3 linked regions of the Homo sapiens genome follow. The protein of the gene in region 2 purifies or fractionates together with the protein of the main gene of each other region. This does not show direct contact. Each region holds a gene or a part of one and is shown on either strand. Other genes may lie near its edges.

The links. The genes of interacting proteins can lie anywhere in the genome.
Region 1: the proteins of TNS1 (region 2) and CTNNAL1 purify together in Homo sapiens (affinity purification with mass spectrometry; one large-scale study listed by BioGRID and IntAct). This does not show direct contact.
Region 3: the proteins of TNS1 (region 2) and DTNB purify together in Homo sapiens (affinity purification with mass spectrometry; one large-scale study listed by BioGRID and IntAct). This does not show direct contact.

The regions. Positions count from the first base shown.
Region 1 is NC_000009.12:108,979,000-108,982,499, forward strand, and holds part of CTNNAL1 (alpha-catulin), read right to left. Parts: intron 483-3,500; coding exon 282-482; intron 1-281. UniProt on the Homo sapiens protein: May modulate the Rho pathway signaling by providing a scaffold for the Lbc Rho guanine nucleotide exchange factor (ARHGEF1).
Region 2 is NC_000002.12:217,845,996-217,849,495, reverse strand, and holds part of TNS1 (tensin-1), read left to right. Parts: intron 1-408; coding exon 409-1,986; intron 1,987-3,500.
Region 3 is NC_000002.12:25,387,078-25,390,577, forward strand, and holds part of DTNB (dystrobrevin beta), read right to left. Parts: intron 1,285-3,500; coding exon 1,125-1,284; intron 302-1,124; coding exon 212-301; intron 75-211; coding exon of another isoform or gene 22-74; exon of another isoform or gene 1-21.

The DNA of each region.
Region 1 (3,500 bases), on a different chromosome or scaffold from region 2:
GAAGAGTAGGGACAACAGTGTGAACTAGTGATAGTGACAGAGGCATATAATTGAGACTGGCTAGAATGAGAGTCAACAGGCCTGGAAATAAATGTCAAGTATTGTAAGTGCTAGATGGGAAGGATATTTTGGCCAACTAGGAGGGAAAGAAGGGATGAGATATCCTGTCCCATTCTGGAACAAATTCATACTCCTGGTGATTATGTAACTTCCATATCTTGCAAAACTTTATGGGAAAGCCATTATATAAGATTTACTTTGATTTTAAAAAAAGTTCTTACAGCTTGAATCCACACAGAAATTAACTGCTGCAGTTCCATTCTCGCCTGAGTTGACAGTTCCAAGATGCGTTCTCTGTGCTCATGGCTGGTGTAGGCAGAATCAGTAAAGTCCTCCATACGCTCCAAGATGACTTCCAATGTCACAGAAAGGTTCTCTTTGGACTGAAAATAAAGATTCTCCCGAAGAGCTTCAATATTCATCTGAGAACAAAAAGGACATCTATCCATCCATGTGAGTCAATATTCCCACCTGACCAAAATGGGCTGTAATTTCTAACAGTGCCCAGGAAAACACTAGCATTTCCTTTTCCCAAGCTGAGGGGAAATACAGCCACCAATGATATCTATATTCGCCACTAACCCAGAAGGATACATTGCTCAAAAGCCTTCAATATCCATGCAAAGCACCATTCCTAGAGTAATTAATACAATGACATTGCTATGAGATCAGTGAATACTAAGGCAGAAAGAGCATCATCCTCTAGCAACTGGCAGGAAAAATGAACCAGCCTCCAGGTAAAAGATTTGCATCTGAGAAAATGCCTAGGCAAAGTCCTGGAAGATAAGTTACACCCAAATATGAAATGTGCTGAGCCCAGGGGGAAGGATGGTGTGGAAGATGTGGGGTGTGAGAAGCACTGGGGAAGACATCCATTTTTCCTTTGTTAATTCAGCAAAGACTCTCCTAGTCACCTAACTGGTCTCCCTACATTTTGTTTAAAGTCCCCAACAGCACCTTACTGACCCAAACATCCTCTACCAGAGGGTCTGTATAATCTAAAATGTAAACCATCTGATACTGCCACCTCCCTCTAATAGTTCCTCGCCATCTATAGAGAATCAAGCCCAAACGTCTATGTAGTATAGCACAAAATCCTCTATGGCCTGTCTTTATATACTTCTCTAACAGTCTATCTCACCCCCTGAACCCCCTAACAACCTTTCACTTCAGCCATCCTGTTTGGAGTTCCTTGACTATGTGATGAACACATGCTCATGTGTGCAGTCTTTCTCTCTCAGCTTTCTACGATGCATCATGCCATTTCAACCCTGTAAAACACTACAGTCCATGAAATATGTCACACAGACAACTTGGGCCAAGAGGCAACAAGCGGTAATGATCATGATTATGGTCACAATGAATGTGATAATAAGGATACCTTACATTTGTTTAACACTTCAAAGTCCTTTCACAAATGTTATTTTAATTAATCCTTATGTGTGACCCATTTTAACATCATCCATGAAAATATCAAAGTTTGGGAAAGTCAAGATGCCATAGGAGAGTCCTTGCTTCCCCTCCTGCTCTTGGCCCAAGTTGTGTCAGGTGATCACTCCATCCTAGGTAGACAGAAACTTGTATTTAAGCTAGGAAAGAATACAGATAATAGTAAGGTATGGAATTTACAATGGGGATCTTCTCAGAGAATTAAATTTATTTTATTAATTTAAGAGAATTAAATTTGAGAATTTAAACAGAATTAAAACATAAAAATCAGTTATATTGGTCTCATACCATTTATGTTAAGGTTTTTTATTTTCCCTTTAGAGAGAAAATATACATGTTTTTAGACAGCAACTTAGTGGAGTTTTGTGGGGTTTTTTTAAAGAGGCTATTTACTGATATGGTTTCATAACATTTGTCCATATATTCATGGTACCAAATACAGCAAAGTACCCAGTTTCCCTCCATAGATTATACTCTCCATCAGAAAAAAAGCAAGATGCCAAAGAGATAATCATGGACAGTGAGACTGAGCCTATTTATAACAGCTCTGCCTCCAGCATGCCTGATGGCGAGAGGGCAGCAGCCAGAGCTGTCGGCAGCAGCCACAGGCAGAGCACTGCCCCTCCTTCACCTGCACTAGAAATGCAGCAGCAGGTGGTGAAAGATGTCTCTCACTTGACTTACTTGTTTCCCTAATTATCCTTTGACAACACATCTCCTCCTTCAGCATTTATAAAAAGGGAAGATTAGAAAAATAATCTCTAAGATCTCTTTCAGCAATAAAATTTCTAAGAGAAGGTTTGGTCTGTACAGTTTCTTTCCCCTCAGGAAGACTCAGTGGTAGGACTGGCATCATATAAACAAACCCAGAGGTGTAAAGTGAAAGGTCATGGACTTTGGGATTAGAGAATCCTGGGCCTAAAGAAGGGTTCTACCACTTACTAGCTCTCCTCCTCAAAAAAAAAAGACAAAAAACAAAAAAAAAAAAAACAGTATATAATTATATCCACCTAAAGGGCAGGTAGGGATTAAATAAAATATTTATTAAGAGCAAAAAGAGATATTCTTTCCATTACTGTCTTTTCACCCCATGTTCCTACTTAGACCTTCACACAATTAGAAATCAAAGTCCAGGGCCAGGCGTGGTGGTTCACGCCTGTAATCCCAGCACTTTGGGAGGCCAAGGTGGGCGGATCACCTGAGGTCCGGAGTTCGAGACCAGCCTGGCCAACATGGCAAAACCCCATCTCTATTAAAAGTACAAAAATTAGCCGGCTGTGGTGGTGGGTGCCTGTAATCCAAGCTACTCAGGAGGCTGAGGCAGGACAATTGCTTGAACCCAGGAGGTGGAGGTTGCAGTGAGCCAAGATCGTGCCACCACACTCCAGCCCGAGAAACAAGAGTGAGACTCCATCTCAAAAATAAATAAATAAAATAAATCAAAGTGCAGTAAAATGGAAAGAATGCCATTCTCATCATAGCCCTGTCTGTTAGAGAGGTGGGAACCTTTAGCATTTGGATAACTTCTCAGGGCCTTAGTTTTCTGATCTGTTAAAGGAGGGCATTGTACTAGATGACTTCTTAGGGCCCTCCCAACTCAGACACTGCTCTTACCCAGAAAGCATCTTCACCATGTCTATGACTTCTGATGAGAAGTCAGACTTCCTGGAGTCACACTGCCTAGTTTCAAATCCCAACTCTGGTACTTAGTAGCCAGCAAGTTAATATCCTTTCTGTTTCTCAAGCTCCTCAACAGTGTAATGGAAATAATAGCAATAGTTCTTTGAGGATTATATAAGTTCATATATTTAAAGCACTCAGAAAAGGGCTGGCACAGAATAAGGACTCAATAACTGTTAGTGTGTATTACTGTTGATTTTTAAATTTTAATTATTACTAATACTATTACTATAGTCTCAAAGTACCAACCCTCTAACACAGAGAAAAGCAGGAATTCTAGCAGAAATGATTTGCTGCTCACCATCATCCTA
Region 2 (3,500 bases):
ATTTAATGAATATTGGCAATTTCAGATGGTTCAACCAGATTCTATTATTATCCCCATTTTATGGACCAGGAGGCTGGCTCAGAGAGTTATTCATGCCTCTGGTCAGGAAGCTGGTGAAATGCCAGAGCTAGGCTTGGGACTGGAGCGATTTGCCCCCAGCACTTCCTGCTCAGTGTTGGGCTCCACTGCCCGGCCCTGAAGCTGAGTGTTGGTGAGGCTCTGCCCCAAAGCCTGGGGTAGAGGTCTTTCTGTCAGCTCCCCTTTTCCCCACCTCAGGGTGGTGAGAGGAGGTTTTAGGATGCAGGGCATGGGAGCTCTTAGCTTCTTTCTCTGGCAGAGTGGATGATACCCCTGCCTCCCGCTAATGTCTGTTGTCTGTTGTCTCCCCTCCGGCTCTGTCCCTTGCAGAGGTGGTGGGACACACGCAGGGGCCACTAGATGGGAGCCTGTATGCTAAGGTGAAGAAGAAAGACTCCCTGCACGGCAGCACCGGGGCTGTTAATGCCACACGTCCTACACTGTCGGCCACCCCCAACCACGTGGAACACACGCTTTCTGTGAGCAGCGACTCGGGCAACTCCACAGCCTCCACCAAGACCGACAAGACCGACGAGCCTGTCCCCGGGGCCTCCAGTGCCACTGCTGCCTTGAGTCCCCAGGAGAAGCGGGAGCTGGACCGCCTGCTGAGTGGCTTTGGCTTAGAGCGAGAGAAGCAAGGCGCCATGTACCACACCCAGCACCTCAGGTCCCGCCCAGCAGGGGGCTCGGCTGTGCCCTCCTCTGGACGCCACGTTGTCCCAGCCCAGGTTCATGTCAATGGTGGGGCGTTAGCATCTGAGCGGGAGACAGACATCCTGGACGATGAATTGCCAAACCAGGATGGTCACAGTGCGGGCAGCATGGGCACACTCTCTTCTCTGGACGGGGTCACCAACACCAGTGAGGGGGGCTACCCAGAGGCCCTGTCCCCACTGACCAACGGTCTGGACAAGTCCTACCCCATGGAGCCTATGGTCAATGGAGGAGGCTACCCCTACGAGTCTGCCAGCCGGGCGGGGCCTGCCCATGCTGGCCACACGGCCCCCATGCGGCCCTCCTACTCTGCACAGGAGGGTTTAGCTGGCTACCAGAGGGAGGGGCCCCACCCAGCCTGGCCACAGCCAGTGACCACCTCCCACTATGCCCATGACCCCAGCGGTATGTTCCGCTCTCAATCCTTTTCGGAAGCTGAACCCCAGCTGCCCCCAGCTCCGGTCCGAGGGGGAAGCAGCCGGGAGGCTGTGCAAAGGGGACTGAATTCGTGGCAGCAGCAGCAGCAGCAGCAGCAGCAGCCTCGCCCACCTCCACGCCAGCAGGAAAGAGCCCACTTGGAGAGTCTTGTAGCCAGCAGGCCCAGCCCTCAGCCATTGGCAGAGACCCCCATCCCCAGTCTCCCTGAGTTCCCGCGAGCAGCCTCCCAGCAGGAGATTGAACAGTCCATCGAAACACTCAATATGCTGATGCTGGACCTGGAGCCAGCCTCCGCTGCTGCCCCACTACACAAGTCCCAGAGTGTCCCCGGGGCCTGGCCAGGGGCTTCTCCACTCTCCTCCCAGCCCCTCTCTGGATCCTCCCGTCAGTCCCATCCACTGACCCAGTCCAGATCTGGCTATATCCCCAGTGGGCATTCGTTGGGAACCCCTGAGCCAGCCCCACGGGCCTCTCTGGAGTCTGTCCCTCCTGGCAGGTCTTACTCACCTTATGACTATCAGCCATGTTTGGCTGGGCCTAACCAGGATTTCCATTCAAAGAGCCCAGCCTCTTCCTCCTTGCCTGCCTTCCTTCCGACCACCCACAGCCCTCCAGGGCCTCAGCAACCCCCAGCCTCTCTCCCTGGCCTCACTGCTCAGCCTCTGCTCTCACCAAAGGAAGCGACTTCAGACCCCTCCCGGACTCCAGAGGAGGAGCCATTGAATTTAGAAGGGCTGGTGGCCCACAGGGTAGCAGGTAAGAGGTATTCAGTCCTGACTCCTTCTACCCCTTCCTTATTTGGTCTTGCTGGGGGGAGGTGCAGGTCCAGCCATGACCCCTAAGCAGATGTTGCTTTCACTGGTGGGAGGAGGCTCTCAGGAGCCTATATGCTAGCCAGTTATCCCTTCCTGCATTCATTGTCTGATAGGCACCAAGCCAGACACCAAGTTTCAAAGTTCAATGTCAAGCAATTCCTGCCCTCAAGAAATTTACAGTCTAGTGAGCGGACAGATACACAGACAGATGATTTCATTAGAGAGTAATGTGTACGGTGACAGAGGTGGGACCAAGATCCCAGAGCCTGGGAAAGCAAAGCTTACCACCTAGGGCAGTCAGGGAAAGCTTCCAGGAGGTGGTGACTTTGGGGTTGGAGTACAGACTTTCTAGACACAGAGGAGACTCTGCAATTGCCTGTCGTGCTGTCTGTCCTCAGACTTTAGTTCCTTGGGGGAGACGTGGAGAAGGCTGGAGGGAGGCCTTTGTAGACTCAAATTCCCTCTTAGGTCCCGCTCCTAGAGGCCATGAAAGAGTCCGAGAGGGTATCCTCAAGCCCTTAGGCTCTATCTGCTGGGGCGGGGAGGCCAAGGTTCCCCTTCTAAGTCAGTTTTCCTGTTAGTCTTTGCTGAGGACCAGCCCTGTATGGGAAGTAGGTGCTGAGAGACAAAGCTCCTTTTCCTATCAGAGAGTGGGCTTCTCTTTTGGGAGAGAGGAAAGTGGGACACTCAGAAGAGCTTTTGGGGAGACAAAGGCAAGAAATGACAGCATGTCTGGGGCCATGTTGGGAGAGACAGCTGCGAGGTTCCCTTCCCACTGGTCTAAGCCTATGCCCATTCCACAAGGGTGGCTGAACTTGGCAGGAAAACCTGTTGGGTGACTTTATTCTGGAGGTGGAGCCCAGACAGGGGTGGACCAGAGACTGTGGATTTGGGTGGACCTTGTGCCAGCCCCTCAGCTGACAGGGTGGTGGGAGCTCAGCGAGGAGGAGAGGAGCCTGGGCAGCTGTCTCTGTCCTCCACCCCTTTTCCTAAATTTAGGGGAAGCTGAGTCACCATGCCAGCTGCAGGGAGGGAAGGAAACACCCTCCCTGGAGATGGACCGTGGGTTTAGGGAAGCAGCTTGGGGCAGGCCAGCTGGCTCAGGACCTGGTGTGGGGACACAGGCTCCCTGCTCCTATACTTCAGAGCAGAGCAGAGTCCCCAGCTCCACTATTGGTATAATAGCTTGAAATTGGCCATTGCAGGAGTATTTACACCATGGAAATTGGCAATCAGCCTCACCTCCCATAGAGAGCTGGCCTAGCAGTAACAATTCCTTTTACCTGAGCATCGGAACAAAGGATGGGCAGTTCTTAACCTCGGATGAAACGCTCCATGGGTGGTCCATATGGGCTTTGACTTCTGCCTTCTCCCACATCTGGGCCCCTGAGATAAAGATACCCCCCTGGCTTTGTCAGCAGAGATCCTTTTCTTCTTGGTTTTTTTGAGGTGAGA
Region 3 (3,500 bases), about 190 Mb from region 2:
GGCCTGAATGTGAAACCGCCCCTACGCGATCCTGTGTGACAGAGGCTCTCTGGGTGGAGACATCCAGTGTGTTCCTAGAAGGCAAAGTTAGGTGATGAAATGGGGTGGTGCAAGCTGGGTGGTGAGGTTCTGCCGGTGCTGGCAAGGAAGTGAGAAGGGCGCGGGCAAGGCAGGGGAGGCCAGGAAGCTGGCTGGGAGCTCTGGGTTTCACCTGAATGGAGCTCCTTCACCAGGGATGACATGGTGTTGGTGATGGAGTCAGCTGCCACCAGCAGGTCATTGCGGAGGTTTCTCCTCGTACCTGAGGAGAGGCAGAGCAGATGGGGATGCCAGGGTGGGTGAGCGTGGAGAAGAGACGGCTGAGCAAATGCCTCAGTTCTGCCAGGCCCGAGAACACAGGTGTGGAACACCTAAGGGGAGATGGGGCCACAGCAGCTCCACCCATTCCCAGGCACACCGGGGGCAGGAGGCACCAGCCCACTGGTCCCTCTCCCTCTGCCCTCTCTACCTAGGGAGCAGCATCCTGTCAACTCCACGCTTTGCCGCCACCACACAATCCAGAGCTGGGTTCCAGAATAAGCATTCCACCGAGGTCTTCCTCAGCCTTGTGGGGGTGGGGCTGTACTCTCCACAACCACCACTACCACCTCCCCTTCTCACCTCCAGCCCCAGCAGGACTTCCCTCTGAATCCCCACCCAACTACTTAATACTGCTGGTCACCAGCTCCCCCGATGACTGTGACAATGGCGTGCATACTGTGCTTTCAGCACGGTCCCAGTTACAGTGCCTGTTACAGTCCCTTCTAGGCCAGGGAATTATTCCATCCAATTCCTCTGGAGGAGACAAAGCCCAAAGGACAAAGCACTTCCAATAATCCAGAAAAAAGGGCAGAGAACCCCAGGAGGCCTGTTCTTGGCACACATAGGAAGCCTGCAGCCCTCCCGCTGGAGACCAGCCCGTCTCATGAGAAGGGGCCAGCACCTGACTTATTTACACTGTCTGTCAAAATCTGATCATTCCAAGCAAAGAGCACAAAACAGAAATGGAAAAAACCTCAGCAGGAATCTTGTCCGTGTTTGCACATCCCTTCAGCTCCCCGCTGAACTCTGCTCCAGAAACTCACCTTGTGCGAAGGCCTCCTGCACGTCTCCCCCGACTCCGCTCAGCGAGTCCTGCGGACAGTGGGTGGGGGTGGAGCCGGCAGACGTGGAGCGCACTGGCATGGGCATTGGCCGGCCGCCTCCATGGGTGGGCGATGTATGTGGTGACCCTGTGGCCTGAGCCTGGAGATTCAAAGACAGAAAATACGTTATCTCAAGTACCTGACCTCTTTGAGGAAGGAAGAAAGTACTTTTTCTCCATCAACCAGAGCCAGCCAGTGGGCCTCAGTTCAGTGGTACAAGATCATACTTGAAAGGAAGGAGTTAGGCTGCTTCCAAGACTGGAGAGAGGAAGAAAAGGAAAAAAGGAAGGGGGCGTGCAGGGCAGAGAGAGAGAACATCCTAAGAACAAGACCAAGAATGGGAGGGAAAGAAGAGGCTGGCACAGAGTGGTGGAGACAGAGTGAGCTGCGTGACTGGGCCAGGGCTCTAGAAGGGCTTGGCTTGCAGGGCAGGAAGTAACATGCAAACAGCTTTCATTTTGTTTGCAAACACATTCATGTACATGTTCTCATTTGGACCCCTCCCCCCGCTGCTGCCGGCAACCTGTGAGTGGAAAGGACATACGTGTGTGTGTGTGTGTGTGTGTGTGTATGTATATATTTATATACGTATATATCTTTTTTGGAGACAGAGTCTTGCTTTGTTGCCCAGGTGGAGTGCAGTGGCACGATCTCAGCTCACTGTAACCTCCGCCTCCCAGGTTCAAGAGATTCTCCTGCTTCAGCCTCCCGAGTAGCTGGGACTACAGGTGTGCGCCACCACGCTGGGCTAATTTTTTGTATTTTTAGTAGATACGGGGTTTCAACACGTTGTCCAGGTTGGTCTTTAACTCCTGAGCTCATGCAATCTGCTCGCCTTCGCCTCCCAAAGTGCTAGGATTACAGGTGTGAGCCACCATACCAAGCCAGGGTATATATTTTTATGTCCATTTTATAGAAGAAGAAGAATGGAAAGAGACGTTGTGTCAGGCCACACAGCTTGCCAGTGGGAGGCATGGGAACAACCCCTTGACTCCAAGGGTGGCAGTGTGCACTCTGCAGGTTGTGACCCCACTTCCTGCAGGGCATGCTCTGAGCATGTGCGGAGCTCGGCTGCAGGCTGCAAGCGGGGCCATGGGGCCAGTCATGCCACATGCACTGCACATGTACAGCAAGGCTGTCCGGGGCCACCCCGCGGGGACGAGGTGAGAAAGGACACATGGTAAACAGAAACCAAGCTTTCCTTGGGAGGCCCTGGTATAGTTGTGGAGAAAGTTTGGAGCAATGGGATAAAATAAATAAAAGGAGAAAACTAATCAAGGGCCGCTCACTGAGATGTGGGCTCTGTAGCTCTTCAGCACAACGGGAACTGAGTGTGGAAGGTGGACTAGGGTTTTCTGTGGAAGCAAAACTGGAAAAAATAGAAGCCAAAGTGTGAGAGTGAATTCAAATGAAGACAGTTATCCTTCTTCTAGCTTTCTCAGCTAGAAACCCCATATACAAACAGAATTGGCCCTGAACAGGTGGACAGGCTGGACGCACGACACCCCACCGCAGTGCTTCAACCGTGTGGCCACCAAACTCAACAGAAATGGATTGTTTTCTGTGGTTCTTACTTTGAATCATTTGTGTGTGTGTGTGTGTGTGTGTGTGTGTGTGTGTGTATGTGTATTTTGAGAAGTTAAAAAAAATACAGAAAACTAAAAAGTACAACATAATTAACCACCCCAAATTGGTAACTTCATATTGTGTCAAATGTATTTCAACCTAAAAATATTGCAGAAAAATTTGCAATATTTTTGTCCACCAGTTCTTTCCTGTTCCAGTTCTTTCCTCTCCTCCCTTCAGAGGCAACCCCTATCAAAATTCTGCTGTGAAACTTTTAACCTATATGTGCATGTATAGCTATGAATAATAGATGGTATTTCACGCTTTTAAATTTTGCATGAATGGTATTGTACTGCTCATATCACTTTGCAATTTGCTTTAATCACTTAGCATGCTTTCTGAGATCTTTCCATGATACAAATAAATATGAACTAAATCAAAATGGATCATAGTAACTATAAGAGCTAAAACTAAAATGGATCATAGTAACTATAAGGGCTAAAACTATAAAATTTCTCTAAGAAAACACCCAAACCATGATATGTAAAAACAAAACCAAACAGATAAACTGGCTTTCATTGAAATTTTAAACTTTTTCTTTTCTTTTTCTTTTCGTCTTCTCTTTTTTTTTTTTGAGATGGAGTTTCACTCTTTCACCCAGGCTGGAGTGAAGTGGTGCGATTTTGGCTCAGTGCAACCTCCGTCCCCTGGGTTCAACCAATTCTCCTGCCTCAGCCTCCAAAGTAGATG